Homo sapiens: one gene and its partners. The protein of the gene in region 4 purifies or fractionates together with the protein of the main gene of each other region. This does not show direct contact. Each region holds a gene or a part of one and is shown on either strand. Other genes may lie near its edges.

What was found. The genes of interacting proteins can lie anywhere in the genome.
Region 1: the proteins of FMNL3 (region 4) and DCAF6 purify together in Homo sapiens (affinity purification with mass spectrometry; one large-scale study listed by BioGRID and IntAct). This does not show direct contact.
Region 2: the proteins of FMNL3 (region 4) and NAA11 purify together in Homo sapiens (affinity purification with mass spectrometry; one large-scale study listed by BioGRID and IntAct). This does not show direct contact.
Region 3: the proteins of FMNL3 (region 4) and SPECC1L purify together in Homo sapiens (affinity purification with mass spectrometry; one large-scale study listed by BioGRID and IntAct). This does not show direct contact.

The regions. Positions count from the first base shown.
Region 1 is NC_000001.11:168,006,183-168,009,682, forward strand, and holds part of DCAF6 (DDB1- and CUL4-associated factor 6), read left to right. Parts: intron 1-3,500. UniProt on the Homo sapiens protein: Ligand-dependent coactivator of nuclear receptors. Enhance transcriptional activity of the nuclear receptors NR3C1 and AR. May function as a substrate receptor for CUL4-DDB1 E3 ubiquitin-protein ligase complex.
Region 2 is NC_000004.12:79,316,188-79,319,687, reverse strand, and holds the end of NAA11 (N-alpha-acetyltransferase 11), read left to right. Parts: intron 1-1,896; 3' UTR 1,897-3,041; downstream 3,042-3,500.
Region 3 is NC_000022.11:24,326,331-24,329,830, forward strand, and holds part of SPECC1L (cytospin-A), read left to right. Parts: intron 1-2,515; coding exon 2,516-2,589; intron 2,590-3,500. UniProt on the Homo sapiens protein: Involved in cytokinesis and spindle organization. May play a role in actin cytoskeleton organization and microtubule stabilization and hence required for proper cell adhesion and migration.
Region 4 is NC_000012.12:49,648,406-49,651,905, forward strand, and holds part of FMNL3 (formin-like protein 3), read right to left. Parts: intron 3,046-3,500; coding exon 2,977-3,045; intron 2,888-2,976; coding exon 2,763-2,887; intron 2,474-2,762; coding exon 2,271-2,473; intron 1,521-2,270; coding exon 1,286-1,520; intron 1,134-1,285; coding exon 1,065-1,133; intron 935-1,064; coding exon 854-934; intron 754-853; coding exon 624-753; intron 1-623. UniProt on the Homo sapiens protein: Plays a role in the regulation of cell morphology and cytoskeletal organization. Required in the control of cell shape and migration. Required for developmental angiogenesis.

The DNA.
Region 1 (3,500 bases), on a different chromosome or scaffold from region 4:
GCTATCTAATGCATTTTAATTACTGCATTTCAAATTGCTAAATTCCTTTCAATATTTAATGTAAGTATTAAATGTGACAATCATTTGAATTATTGAAGAAGAAAAAATATCTTTGGTGGTCATGTGATGATTATTGAAACATTATGCAGTACTTTTACTCATAAATTATTTATAGGAAGTAAGGAAATATTTTTAACTGGGAGATTATTGAGAGAATTTTGGTTGACTAAGCTATAGATAATTAGAATATTTCCATGTTATCAAGACATTATCACTATTGAGAAAAATGATTTGGTGTTAGATGTAACATCTGAAGGTTATGACTGTAGTTGTTCTGATAACAGCTTTTTCATTATTCTGGAGTTCAACGTTTCAGGAGTAAGGACTTAATTTGTTTCTGTTTTTGTTTTTTGTCCAATCTCTTTTGCATTTGCCATAGCCTAAGTCCAAATGTGTTTGTGAATATTGGGAATTGTCCATTGGGTGAATGTAGTAGATGGAAATGTCAGCTTAGGACCATGATTTCTATTATTTCCCTGCATAGAGATAGAGAAAATGATAAAGTATACTTCTGTCTATGCTTGCCTTGCTGTGGATACCTTTTTATGTAAATGTTTATCCCTTTACATGTCCTCCCTCATTTTTACTGATATCAAAGAAACGGACAATGGGAATATGAAAATTTGCTACGCTCCATCTCTGGTTGAACCTAATTGTCTGCCTTCTCTTAGTCTACAGTGGAATCACTGAATGATAATGAAGAAAGTTATGACCACAAATTTCAATGGGTGCTCAACACTGTGCATCAGAGCAGCCTCACACTGTTGCTCTCCAGCTGTACAAAATGACTATTTTACACTTTCATGTCTCTCAAACTTTAATACTTCCCTTCATCCCCGCCCCACTTCCAGATTCTAACCTTTCATTCACAATGAAAAGTACTCGTTTTCCTACTGTCAATAATTTCCCAGCTTTCCAACATCTGTACTCACATTGTGATAGAAGCAGAAAGCTCCTATCAAAAGCTAGTCAATGTAGTTGCTATCCCTTTCCAGCTTCTCAAAGATTTCGCCCCTTCTCTTGCATTATCATTGCCTTTTTTTGCCAAATTGTTTCTTTTGGCCTTAACATGCTCTTATTATCTCCTTTCTTTAAAAATTTTCTCTTAATTATCTCACATTCCCCTTCAGCTATTGCCTTATTTCTCTGCTGCTTTCGTAATGAGAATCCTCAGAAGAGTTGTTGATAGATGCTCTCTCCATTTTCTTGCCATCCTTCATTTATTTATTAACCAACCCCCATCTGCTTTTCAACCCCCTTTTCCTCTGAAACTTTTAATCAAAGTCACTAGTGACATTCACCAGTTTAAAGGATATTTCTCTGTTAGTACCTTACTAGATTTTTCGACCCGGTTGCATTTAACATAGGCTGTCACTCCTTCTTGAAACACTTTCCTTTCTTGGTATCTATGATATCATATTTGCCTATTTACTCTTATTAATTCTGGTGGGTTTTCAGTAACTGTTGTTCGTGTTTCTTGTTCTATCTCCTTCTGAATATTATAATCAAACCCCTTAGTTTGGGCTCTCTTCTCTTCTCTTTACATACACTCTTTCTCTGGGTGATTGTGTCAGTTCCTCATAGCTTTTAATATCTCCTGTAAATTCATGACTCACAAATATATATATCAGCAATCTGATCTTCTACCCTGAATTCCAGACCCTTATGCCTGATGTCTGACTGCTATTTTGACAGTATGTTTTTGTTATTGTTGTACATCTTTTTTTTTTTTTTTTTTTTTTTTTTTAAAGACAGTCTCACTCTGTCACCCAGGCTGGAGTGCAGTGCACAATCTCAGGTCACTGCAGCCTCCCCCTCCTGGGTTCAAGCAATTCTCCTGCCTCAGCCTCCCAAGTAGCTGGGATTACAGGTTCCTGCCACCACACCCAGCAAATTTTTGTATTTTTAGTAGAGATGGGGTTCCCCATGTTGGTCAGGCTGGTCTTGAACTCCTAACCTCAAGCAGTCCATCCGCCTCGGCCTCCCAAAATGCTGGGATTACAGGCATGAGCCACTGCACCCGGCCTATTGTTGTACGTCATAAATCTACATGTTCAAACTAAAACTTAATGCAGCCTCCTACCCTTCCTGTTCCGTAATTGGCTCCTTCTTGGTCCATTTGCTTATTTGAATAACCTGTGAGTTTTTCTTGATTCCTTCCTTTTCCTCAAGTCCCATGCCAGCTCATCAGCAAGTTCTTTTGTTCCTGTATCTAAACTATAACCTGGGTCTTTTCATCTCACCATCATTTCTTGTCTCCTAATTAATCTGCCTGTACCTACTGTTGTTCCATTATAATGTATTCTCCATGCAGGAGCCAGAATGAGTATTTTAACATGTTAAATCAGATTATATAACTTTGCTGTTTAAATCCCTTCAGAAGTTCCTAATTGCATTTGGAAATACAACTACAAAAGAAAAAAAAATCAAACTCCTCACTGTGGACGTATAAGAATTTATATGGCCTGCCCTTCCCTGTCTCTCTAGCCTCATCTCATTCAATTTTCTCAGTACTTGATGATTGTTACACTCTAGATGTACTACTGATTTCTTTCGGTTATCAGAGAATTTCCGTGCCAAATTCTGCCCTGCCCTGCCCTGCCCTCCCCCGCCCCACCCCGCCTCCACCCTGCCCCCACCCCCTCCCCTCCCCCCTCCCTCCCTCCCTTCCTCCCACTTGCTTGCTTTCTCTCTCTCTCTTTCTCTCTCTCTTTTCTTTCTTTTCTTCCTTCTTTTCTTTTCTCCTTCCTTCCTTTCTTTCTTTTTCTTCTTTTTAGACAGAGTCTTGCACTGTTGCCCAGGCTGGAGTGCAGTGGCGTGATCTCGGCTCACTGCAAGCTCTGCCTCCTGGGTTCACGCCATTCTCCTGCCTCAGCCTCCCAAGTAGCTGGGACTACAGGCGCCTGCCACCATGCCCGGCTAATTTTTTATACTTTTAGTAGAGACAGGGTTTCACCGTGTTGGCCACGATGGTCTCAATCTCCTGACCTTGTGATCCGCCCTCCTCGGCCTCCCAAAGTGCTGGGATTACAGGCGTGAGCCACTGTGCCCTGCCATTTTCTTTTCTTTCTCTTCTCTTCTCTTCTTCTTTCCTTCCTTCCTCCCTTCCTTCCTTCCTTCCTTCCTTCCTTCCTTCCTTCCTTCCTTTCTTTCTTTCTTTCTCTCTCTCTCTTTTGTTTCTTTCTGTCTCTCTCTCTTTCTTTCTTTCTGTCTCTCTCTCTTCCTTCCTCCCTCCCTCCCTTCCTTCACTTCTTCCCTCCCTTCCTTCCTTCCTTCTTTCCTCCATCCCTTCTTTCCTTCTCCTCTTTCTCCTTTTTCTCCTTTCCCATCTTTCTCTCTTTCCTGTCTTTTCTTTTCTTTCCCTCTTTCCTTCTTACACTTTGTTCTTAGTGTTATTCTCTGTATGCTTGGGAAGCCCTTGTCCTGGCTTATCACTTGGC
Region 2 (3,500 bases), on a different chromosome or scaffold from region 4:
TAGATGCCATTTGTTGAATTATTTATAATCTCTAACAATGTCACCTTTCAATCAGTGTATGATGTACATGTAGGATGACTGAAATACCAACTTTGTCAGAAGTAACTGATAAAAGCAGAGGTTTTTCCTAAATTTTGTACTCTATGCTCTAGTATATGAAATCCAATGGGCTTTATGGTACAGGAGGTTAGATAGAATATTTAAAATTCTTTGAATGGGCAATGATTCAAAGAGCCACCATAAAAGCCTTTCTGAAAATATTCTACAATGCCATTTCTATAGATAAATATCTTTGGAAAATTATAGGATTTTTTTTTAAAGTAAAGCCATAGTATTCTGTTTCATGTTTATAACACCATATCGACAAATAGCATGTATTTGTCAGGCTTCCATAGCCCACCTTTAAGAAAACCTGATAATGTAAAACTTTGAACTTAATAAGCAAGACATTAAGGGCTTGGGGTGGGCACAGCGGCTCATGCCTGTAATCCCAGCACTTTAGGAGGCCAAGGCGGGAGCTTTGCATGAGGCCAGGAGTTCAAGACCAGCCTTGAAAACATAGCAAGACCTAGTCTCTACAAAAACTAAAAAACATTAGCCAGCGTGGTGGTGTATACTGGTGCGTGCTTGTAGTCCTAGCTACTCAGGAGGCTGAGGCTGGAGGATCACTTGTGCCCAGGAGTTTGAGGCTCTTGTGAGCCATGATTGTACCACTGTGCTCCAGTCTGGGTGACAGAGCAAGACCCTGTCTCAAAAAAAGGACTATAATACTAACATTTTAAAGGGAATCTTTATGAAAAATACCTATACTCTTAAACAACAAACTATCCTATAGCCTTTATTACAGTGTTATTTGACTTTTTCAGTTTAATTTCTTAAAATTTTCAAGCAGTATTTACTGAGATAACTAAAACAGCTATATAACTTCTTTTGCATGCCTGTTCATGCAAAAATGAAAAAGGCAATGATGATAGTCTTTCTGACCTGTTCCTCCATATCTTGTGTCTCTTTTGTTATAGCAAATATACTTTAAAAAATAAGATTTTACATAGTATTACCTCTTACAACTGGCTTCACTTGTTATTCTGGCAACAGAATTTTCTATAACAATGATTTTGTACAAAAATGCTTTTTAACTGCTCTGTGCATAATAGTCAGCCTCAATCTTATTTACTTCTGTGTGCATATGATAGATGAAAAGGTACTGAGTAAATATTTATTGAATGAATGAATGAATGGACCTCTCAAATTACCCATATAATAAATTTTTTTAAAGGAGAGAAAAATAATGTATGTATGATTCCTCTTACCTGATATAATTACCTACTTCCTCTTACCTGATGTAATTAGGGCACTTTAATTTGTGAATAAAGAAACATTATGGTTATTTTGGTTTCCTGTCCAGGCCTCAGAAAGAAAATATGACTTATAGAGTTGGACACATTGCATCTAACTTATCAAGAGCTAAAAAGGCCTTTCATTTCTTTAGAATTGGAATAAATTTTCTTTTGAGTGGAGTAGGATGAGATAGAATTTAAAGATGACAAGCAAAATGATCTCAGTTTCTTTAGTTTTAAAATAGGTTCTTTGGGGGTAAATCCCAGTTTTTTGGTGTTCTTCCTGTCCCTTTCTCCTGGCAGAAATGTCCTTTAGATGTCAGGAAAGGTTCATGTGTTCTTATGGCAGGGAGGGGAGAGAGCCCCAGATCTGTGTGTGGTCTTTGTGCAGTCATCTGAATTCTCACTGACTGCCATGGAGATATATCTAGTCCAAACTAGTTACTGGGTTTCTTTATCTGCTGTTCCAGTCTATCATTAACTAAACCAGTATTCTTTCAGAGCTGTCAGAGCTTATAGCTCTCCCTTTCTCATTTGTTTTCTTCTCATTTTTCAACAGCATTTCAGGTCCTCATGTCTCAACCACATCTACTCTGTGAACCCTGGCTTAGTCTGTCTGCTCTGCAGCATCTGCTGTGGGGATCATCTCACAGTGACCAGAATGGCTTCTCACTCTTAACTCTATAAACAACCACCTTTCACATATCCTGCTGGGATCATGAAGGAATACCTGGACACAAGAGCCACTGCACAACAGCCAAGGAACTTTGAGACCTGCCATTACAGAACCTTTCTTGGCCTACTCACACTACGCTGCCATTTTATTCTGTTTGTAGTAGTCCTCTGTTGGGTGTGGTTATCCTGCAAGTTTTTCTCCTTTTAGAATGATGAACAGGAAGCAGGGCAAACTCTTGAAGATTTCCAGCTTTCAGTTTTTGTTTTTGTTTTTTAACCATTATTTACCTGAGTTTTCATCCTTGAGGAGGTGAAGTAGTCAGGACCATGAAGTCAGACCTCATGCCCTCTTCCTCCTCTTTCCTGGAAGAAGTATTCAGTTTCCTTTTCCTTTCTCTGGTAACTCCTCCTTTATACTATTCCCCCCTCCCTTTTTTTTGAGGAGGAGGGCATCACCTTCCCAGTGGGAAAAGGTGTTAAGTTAGGAGCTTCTACTGTACAATCAGAACTTGGAGATTTTAAGAAAAGGACAAACGGTAATTAAATTGGAATCTCTAATGTGCTTGTTTGTGTTAGTTTTTTTGTGATTATGTCACTTGGCATTTATTGAGTACCTGCAGTGTTCACACACAATGCTGGAGCCTTCATTAGTTACATATTTAACCCTCTCAGCAACCCTGTAAAGTAGGTAGTATTATCCCTGTTTTACAGATGAGGAAACTGAAGCTCAGAGAAGTGAATTAAATATCCTGGATCTGAACCCAATTCTGTTTGAATTCAAAGCCAAAGTTCCTTCTACTTTTCTGTTCCTACTCTTTGCATTTTATTTATAAATGTGTTAAAATTTTAGCAAAAATGGAGAATCTGCTGTTTAAAAATGTGTTTGCTTAATACATGGCTACTGTATGTCAATTGTAAATATTTATATAACCTACAATTATAATCTATTTTTATTATTTTTCTCTAGTAAAAATAAGTGAAGACAAAGTACCTTGACCTCTGCAGTAAAAGTTACCAGATAAATCCAGAGTTATCATTACTTAATGTTGTTTTTATGTTCACTGAATGTGAATTACCAAAGTATATAACATTTTTCATGTTTAAACTTTTATGAAAACTGGTGTGTATGGATTTAAGTCAAAGCCTGGACTTTATCTGGTGACAAGAGGTAAGTCTTTTCTGTGTAATCGTAATTAGCCCTGCTAAGCAGTTCTTACAGATCTACCCTAGTGCACTCTAAGAATGTCTGCCTAATGGTAAATGATTGCCTGAGGCAGATATAAAAGTTTTTCCCTACATGAAAGGATTTGCCATTTCTTGTGCCAATACAGTATGATAAAATCTATCTTTCCATCTTTTCCTTTTTTCTTTTTAATATTCTATCTCAACGCTAAATTATTTTATTCTTTCCTCTCAACCATGTGTTTATCTCTTTATTTTTAAATATTACAGCTTTCTAACATCTGTCTCTAGGGCAGCATAATCTTA
Region 3 (3,500 bases), on a different chromosome or scaffold from region 4:
TGTCCTTACTCCTCGTCTTATGTCCAAAACCCTGAATTTGTCTATGTGTGAGGTCGCAAGGAACCAAGTTCCCTTGCTGATTCCAGAGCCATCCTTGCCTCCAGAGATAAGGATCAGGGCATTAGACTCGTCTACTCAGCTTGGTGTCTGCTTTACCCAAACCAGATTAGATGGCCTGTTTGACTCTTCGTTTGCAGGTTGAGTCTGAAGTACCTTATGTGTGAGACAGGCTTTAAAGTTTAATCTTTTGCTTATGAAGTCATCTACCCTTGTTGTCTCAACACAAGACTAGCCTTTCTGTCTCTAAGAGGATGAAGATTATATCTTTCCTTTCCTTTACATCTTAAGCACTTAGAAAAAAGCCTGGTACAAAGTTGGTACATATGACACATTTATCAAATTAAAGAGTAAATTTTGAACCTTTTTATTTCACAGGACCTGACTTTGTTACACAGTTTTGGGGCAGTGAATGAGAGCAAGTTAACTACTGCCTACCAGAATTGCCCCTGCCGCCAACGTTTTATCCCATTTATTTCTGATCCAGCTTTAGAAAATACAGCATTATTATTTATTTGTAATAATTATTATTCCACATATAATTGTTGTAAATATTCTAGGCTCTATGTTGTTAAAGTGAATTCATGCCATTTAAAAATACCAGAACACTGGCTGGGTGCAGTGGCTCATGCTTGTAATCCTAGCACTTTGGGAGGCCGAGGCGGGTGGATCATGAGGTCAGGAGTTCAAGACCAGCCTGGCCAACATGGTGAAACCCCGTCTGTACTAAAAATACAAAAATTAGCTGGACGTGGTGGCAGGCGCCTATAATCCCATCTCCACAGGAGGCTGAGGCAGGAGAATCGCTTGAACCCAGGGGGCAGAGGTTGCAGTGAGCTGAAATCATGCCACTGCACTCCAGCCTGGGCAACAGATTGAGACTCCGTCTCAAAAAAAAAAAAAAAAAAAAAAAAACATCAGAACACACATATACCAACATCAAATGTAAAGCATAATGGCAAAAAAATTTTAGAAGAGAAGGTTCTAGTGGAACAGGGGTAAAGAAGATGATGAGCCATCTAAGAAAGAAAGAACATCAGCATACTCATACTTTAGGGTCCTAATTAAAAGCCAATAAAGTGTTAGCTAGAGGAAGAATTTTTTGATTACATGTGTCATTGCAAGCAGGTGTTCACTATGCCTGAATTCCTGCTACTAAGTATAAGGAATGGGAGAGAATGTTATTTACCCAGAAACACTAATGTCTATAGTTATGTTTTCCCTAATGATAAATCGTTAAGTTCTGTCAATAGGATACTTATTAAAAAAAAAACAAAAACCTAGGTAACGATTTCAGCATTACTTTTTATTACTGCTACCATTAGCTGGCACATTTATAAATTTATTCCATTTTAAAGATACCATATTCCAACTACTGAGTCTGTGAGGTCATCACATGGCTTCTTCTGCCTTTGAAGTGTTTTTAGTCTAGTGGTCGAGACAGATGTGTCGAGATGTGGTAATATTGGCGGCAACATGGTACAAGGCTGTGTAAGACACACTTGGAACACACACAACAGCCAGGGATCTACTGGGGTGGGGCTGTAGGTAAATCAGGGTAAAGGATTTGCCACCAGTTGTGTAAGTACCCTTTCTTGCCCTTAACCAAAAAGTGATTGGTTCCTGAGCTGTCAAAGTAACACAGCCGTAAGCGGTTTACTTAGTGGCAGCTATCAGCATAGCACCCTCCTAAGTCATTTATCTCTTATGCATGGATTTTAGAGTAGAACCTCCAAAGAGAAGGTGACTTCCCTTTACGTTTCTGGTTCCAGGGAGACTAGCCTGTGCTACACTTTCATCCTTGTATCCTCACTCTATCTAGAATGGTACTTTGCATCTTATTGGTGGTGCTCATTGAATGTTTTTAGAGTGAATGAAATTGTTCTAAGAAAATTCACATTATCGGATAAATAATTTGAGGAATTATTGATTTACTTTATAAATATATTCTTTATTTTTTAAAAAGATTTTTATAGAATTAATTGAAACAGCAGCTACCCTGAGTATTATATTTTTTACTAATTTTGATTTTACTAATTCACTTCTTTTCTGGAATTTATTCCAGTGTGTAAGGAAAGCTATGCTTATATAAATACTGCAGATTAATAATACTTGTGATTAAAAGTTCATATTGTAGTCACAGTCAATATTGTTTTGATTGGTTATGTACCAACAAAGTGAATTTCTAACGGTTTTACTTTTTGTTTCAAAATTAAGATACTGTGGAAGGAAGTGATTTAGAAATTGTGATTTTTAACTTGATATTTTCCAAAGAAAGTAATATTTGTTATTACTTGAATTTAACATTTTTTCTGTTAAAGTTTTGTATTAAAATTTTTTATAGTCTTTGGACAGGATAACTTTTTTCGAATGTCATATTTAAGTATCCCTTTTCTTTGTATTATTACTCTGAAGATTGTTGTGAGAATAGATATTTAAACTTTGGTGATCTTTTCAGATACAGTTAAAAAACTCCAGGACCAAAAGCACGACATGGAAAGAGAAATAAAGACACTCCACAGAAGACTTCGGGTAGGATAAATCTTCATGTATTGTCTTGTTAGAAAACGGTTTTCTGAAATCTGAGGTGTAGTCATTGACCATGTTATCATTCATCTTAAGTTTTGGATACAGTGATAATACTGGCCCCATTGGGCTTTGGGCAGAAAGCAAATGCTATCATTTCAAATTGGGATTGGTGCTAGATTTTGGGTAGAAGAATGTACTATAGGTTGAGTACCCCTAACCAGACATTCTGAAATCTAAAATATTCCAAAATTTGCAACTCTTGGAGTGATGGCATGATACTCAAAGGAAATGCTTATTGGAGCATTTTGGATTTCGGATTTTCAGATTTGGGATGCTTAGCTGTTAAGTATAGTGCAAATATTCCAAAATCCAAAGAATCTTAAATCTGAAATGCTTTTGGATAAGTGATACTCGACCTGTAGAAATTTATGGGTAGTAATTTTAGAAAGATAGATTTGGGGAAAAAGTGTAAGAAAGGTTATTAGCTTTTGGTTATAAGGTGCCCCAAACTAGTCTGTTTTCATACAAGTTTTCTTCATTTTGTGGCCATGATCCATCTTGCCAACAGCAATGCAGCCATGCTGCAGGGAGTAGGGAGAAAGCTACTCAGTCGTTTGGGTCATACCACAGTTGCTCAGGCTGCTTTCATGGTGTAAGAAAATTGCTTTAGGGGTGTAGGGGGCGTGGGGCTCAGGCATGCCCCAGCTATGGCTCTGATGGAGGTGAGTCCCAGGGAGACTTCCCCACCCGGCCACACCCGCATCCTCCATGACTGTGGGAAGCAACAGACCACGTAGTTCCTTACCGCCTCTTTGTATAATTTTGCCTGCCTATATTGAGTTTAGTGTTTTTCTTCTGGCTTCCTCTTCCTCTTCCTTTTCTTTTGATTTTTTTTTTTCCTGTTAGATTTTGAT
Region 4 (3,500 bases):
CCCAGCCCAGAGCTATATCAAACTCTGGCCCTCCCCCTCAGCATGGGCTCACTCAGGTTCACATACCTGTATGGACATAAGGAAGTACACACCAAGCTAGCTGATCCCTCACAGGGGGAGGGAATGGAATGGAAACTGAGCTTGTGACCCCAAAGAACACAGTAGCAAAGGCAGGCAAGCCACAGAGACTGCTGGTCTCCAAAATGAAACTGCCTCAGGCCTGCCCTAGGGTTCATGGGTGGGGCAGAAATAACAGCTACCTCATGTCTATAGAGAGCTTTATGATTTTTTTCTAAGCACTTCACATACATCATACACAAAACACAAGACCTCTGGGGCCAGCTTGAGGGAGTTGGGAGTAAAGAGCGACTGCTCCCCTTCTTGTTCCTGCTCCCACTGTACCTAGCTGGGAAGGGCTGGGCTGGGCCAGGCCTGGCGCCTGGAGGAAGGCTCCCTCTGGAGTGGCCCCTGCTTAAGGCTCCAGCGGAAAGCTTTGAAGTGGTCAGAAAGAAGATAACAAAAGCCAGAAACAAATGGACCCAAGTGTTCTCTCTCCTCATAGCTTCCTGGGATTGTCCTGGGCTGGATGTGAGGGCAGGCCCACCCAGCCAGGCTCTCCTCACCTGCTGCAGCCTTCTCAACAAAGTGCAGCTCATGCCAGAAGTTAGCCAGGTCTGGGTATTTCTCCTTCACTGTCAAGGCGATGAAATGAAGCAGTGTCATCTTCCGGTCAGTGGACTTGGTATCCAGCAGCTAGGAGAGGGGGTGAGGGCGGTGCACAAGAGCTAAGCACTCTGGCTCCACAACTGCTGCCCCCCAGGCTTCCTGGCCCACGCTGCCCTCACCATCTTACCAGATCCAGGCTCTGGAGCTTGAAGCCATACACAGCTCCCCGCTTGCTGCTGTTCATGTAGTTCCCCAGTGCAAGTATGATCTGTCCAAAGAATGTGTGGGAGGCAGGTCAGGCTCAGGTCCTGAAGGCTCCTTCTTCCTCTCTGTATAGCCCCAGGCCCCCACCTAGGACCTGAAAACCCCCAGCACCCCTGTTCACAACCTCTTCCCACCTCCAACATCTGCTTCAGCTTCTGTGAAGACTTGACGGAAGCGGACGCCGCAATGATGGCATTGAGTTGCTGTAGGACAATATGAACACTGAAGTAACCCCAGGCTGAGATGGGGTAAAGACAGGGAGGGGTCAGAAGGACTGGAAGGGCAGGGGAGGTGACTAGCAGATGGAGGGTGGAGGGACAGCTGTCCAGAGCCATGAGTTGGGTGGGGGCTGTACCGGTGTGAGCATCTGCAGGTTATCCTGGAAGTTCCCCAGGAAGGCCATGCCAGCCATTCGCTGGGTCAACCGTTCCACCTTGCTGAAGAGCAGCATGAAGCGGTCCTCAGCTGCCAACTCCTCCAGGGGCTGCCGCTCCCGCTCATATTGCCGCAGCAGCTTTACCTCAGCCTCTGTGGGCAGGAAGCGCATCAGGCACTCCACGAAGTCCACAGGTAGTGTCTGCAAGTCAAACCTGTGGAGGAGGGAGGGACCACCTCAGTTCTCACATCTCTCCACGTTTTCCCTCATCCCTTTTATTCTCCAAGCTCCTAGAAGAACTGGACAGGGGACTGTACACGGAACACAGCCAAAGGCAAAGGACCCATTGCATCATCTGTCACAGCACCAGCAATGATCCCGGGGGAACACTCCATGCTCCTGTTTAATAAGCCCTTTGATGTACTCCCACTGTACCTAGGGTGAAGTCCAAACACCTGAGCATGGCTTACGAGGTCCAGCCTGCAAGACTTCTGCCCAACTCTCTACCTTCTCCTGCTCCTCTCCCTACACTAAAGCCAGATTCAATTTTTAGTACCCAAGGCACTATGCTTCTCCCTCCAGGCCCTGAACTGGACTAACTCATATCTTTTCTTCAGGTCCCAGTTGAGACATTACCTCCTCTGGGAAGGCTTCCCTCATTCATCACCAAGCTCAGCTACATGAACCTCCCTATTCTCCCAAAGCTGCCTGTATACTTCTACCATCCTGGTGGTATCACTCAGTGTTACTGCACTGTTCCCAATAGACTGAGAGCTCCTTGGGTGAAGGTCTGGGCTGAACTGCCAGCACAGATGCAGTAAATTCTAGCCAAGCCAGTGGATGACTAGGGGGATGTGAGGGAGTTCTGTCAGATGACCTGGAATCTAGGGAAACCCAGGCTCCTGGGTGGAGAACTGGGTTGCCAACAGACTAGGGACCAGAGCCAGGTCAGTGGGAGCCTCACGTATGAATGGCCCTGCAGATCTCCTCAGCCGAGCGGCCAGCCTTGCGTAGGGTGATGGCCAGGTTCTTGGCACGATTGGCTTCCAACAGAGTCACCTTGCTGGCAGCTTTTTGCGCTGTCTTGTTTTTGGAGCAGATGAGGTCAAGGGCAGGGCCCTGCGCTTTTGTCTTGAATAATTCTTCAAACTTATCAAGATCCAGGTCCTGGCAGGAATAGGTGAGCAAGGAAAACGCTGTAGCCTCATACTAGTGGAGGACCTCATGACAGCCCACCCAGCATTGGCCCAGAGCTCTGTCACTCTGGAATATTTCCTGAATACAAACACAAAGTGTTGACACAACTAGAAATATACGTACACTCAAGAATGAAGGGTTGGTGGAGCTAAGCCTGGCCTCACCCTGTCTGATGGCTTTTCTAAGACCAGAATCTCCTCAAAAGGCAACCAGGTCCCTAGCCCTCAACCTTAGCCCTCTGGACCCCAGGCCCTGTTACCTCCAAGATCTTCTCATCATCAAGTTCGCTGAAGACAGTGCCACTGATCTGGTTGGGTTTCAGTGCTGTCCAGTTGAAGACAGGCAGCCGGAACTTGGTCTTGATAGGTTTCTTAATTCGAATGGCTAATTTGGAAGGAGGATCAGTGACACAGGGGCCAAGGACACACACCCCTGGTCCCACCAGCCCTGCCCAGAGCCCTGGGGATACTCACCTGACAGGCCCACTGTCAACACCACAGAGGGTGCAGCACCAGGGAGAGGTGGGGCTGGGGGACACTTGTCTGGGGGAAGAAGAAATGACACAGTGACCCAGGCGTCAAGAGACTCTTCATAGGCTTCCCTCCCCTCTGCCTGTCCCACCTTCTCTGAGAGTTAAAAAAAAAAAAAACTCTCAGAGAAGGAGCCTACATGAACTCTGCTCAAGCTGCTCCCAGAAATCTAACTCTGACAGGGCAGTTGTTGCTGGTCTCTGACCCAGTTTCTATGGCTACAGTCTAAGCCTCTCCTTGGCTGTCTTCAAAGGAATTGGGAGCAACATCTTTATGATCCTTAAAACAGGTCCACATCTGCCTTTGGGCATCCCTGTGCTGATAACTTGAGCTTCCCTCAGATTCCAGGCCTCCCTCACCCTGATTTTATATCCCTCCAAGTCCTCAGATAATGCCATTTTCCCAGCTTCTCCCTGAGGAAGACACTGCTGACTACAGTTTTGGTCCCCACAAAGAGGCTGCCCCTG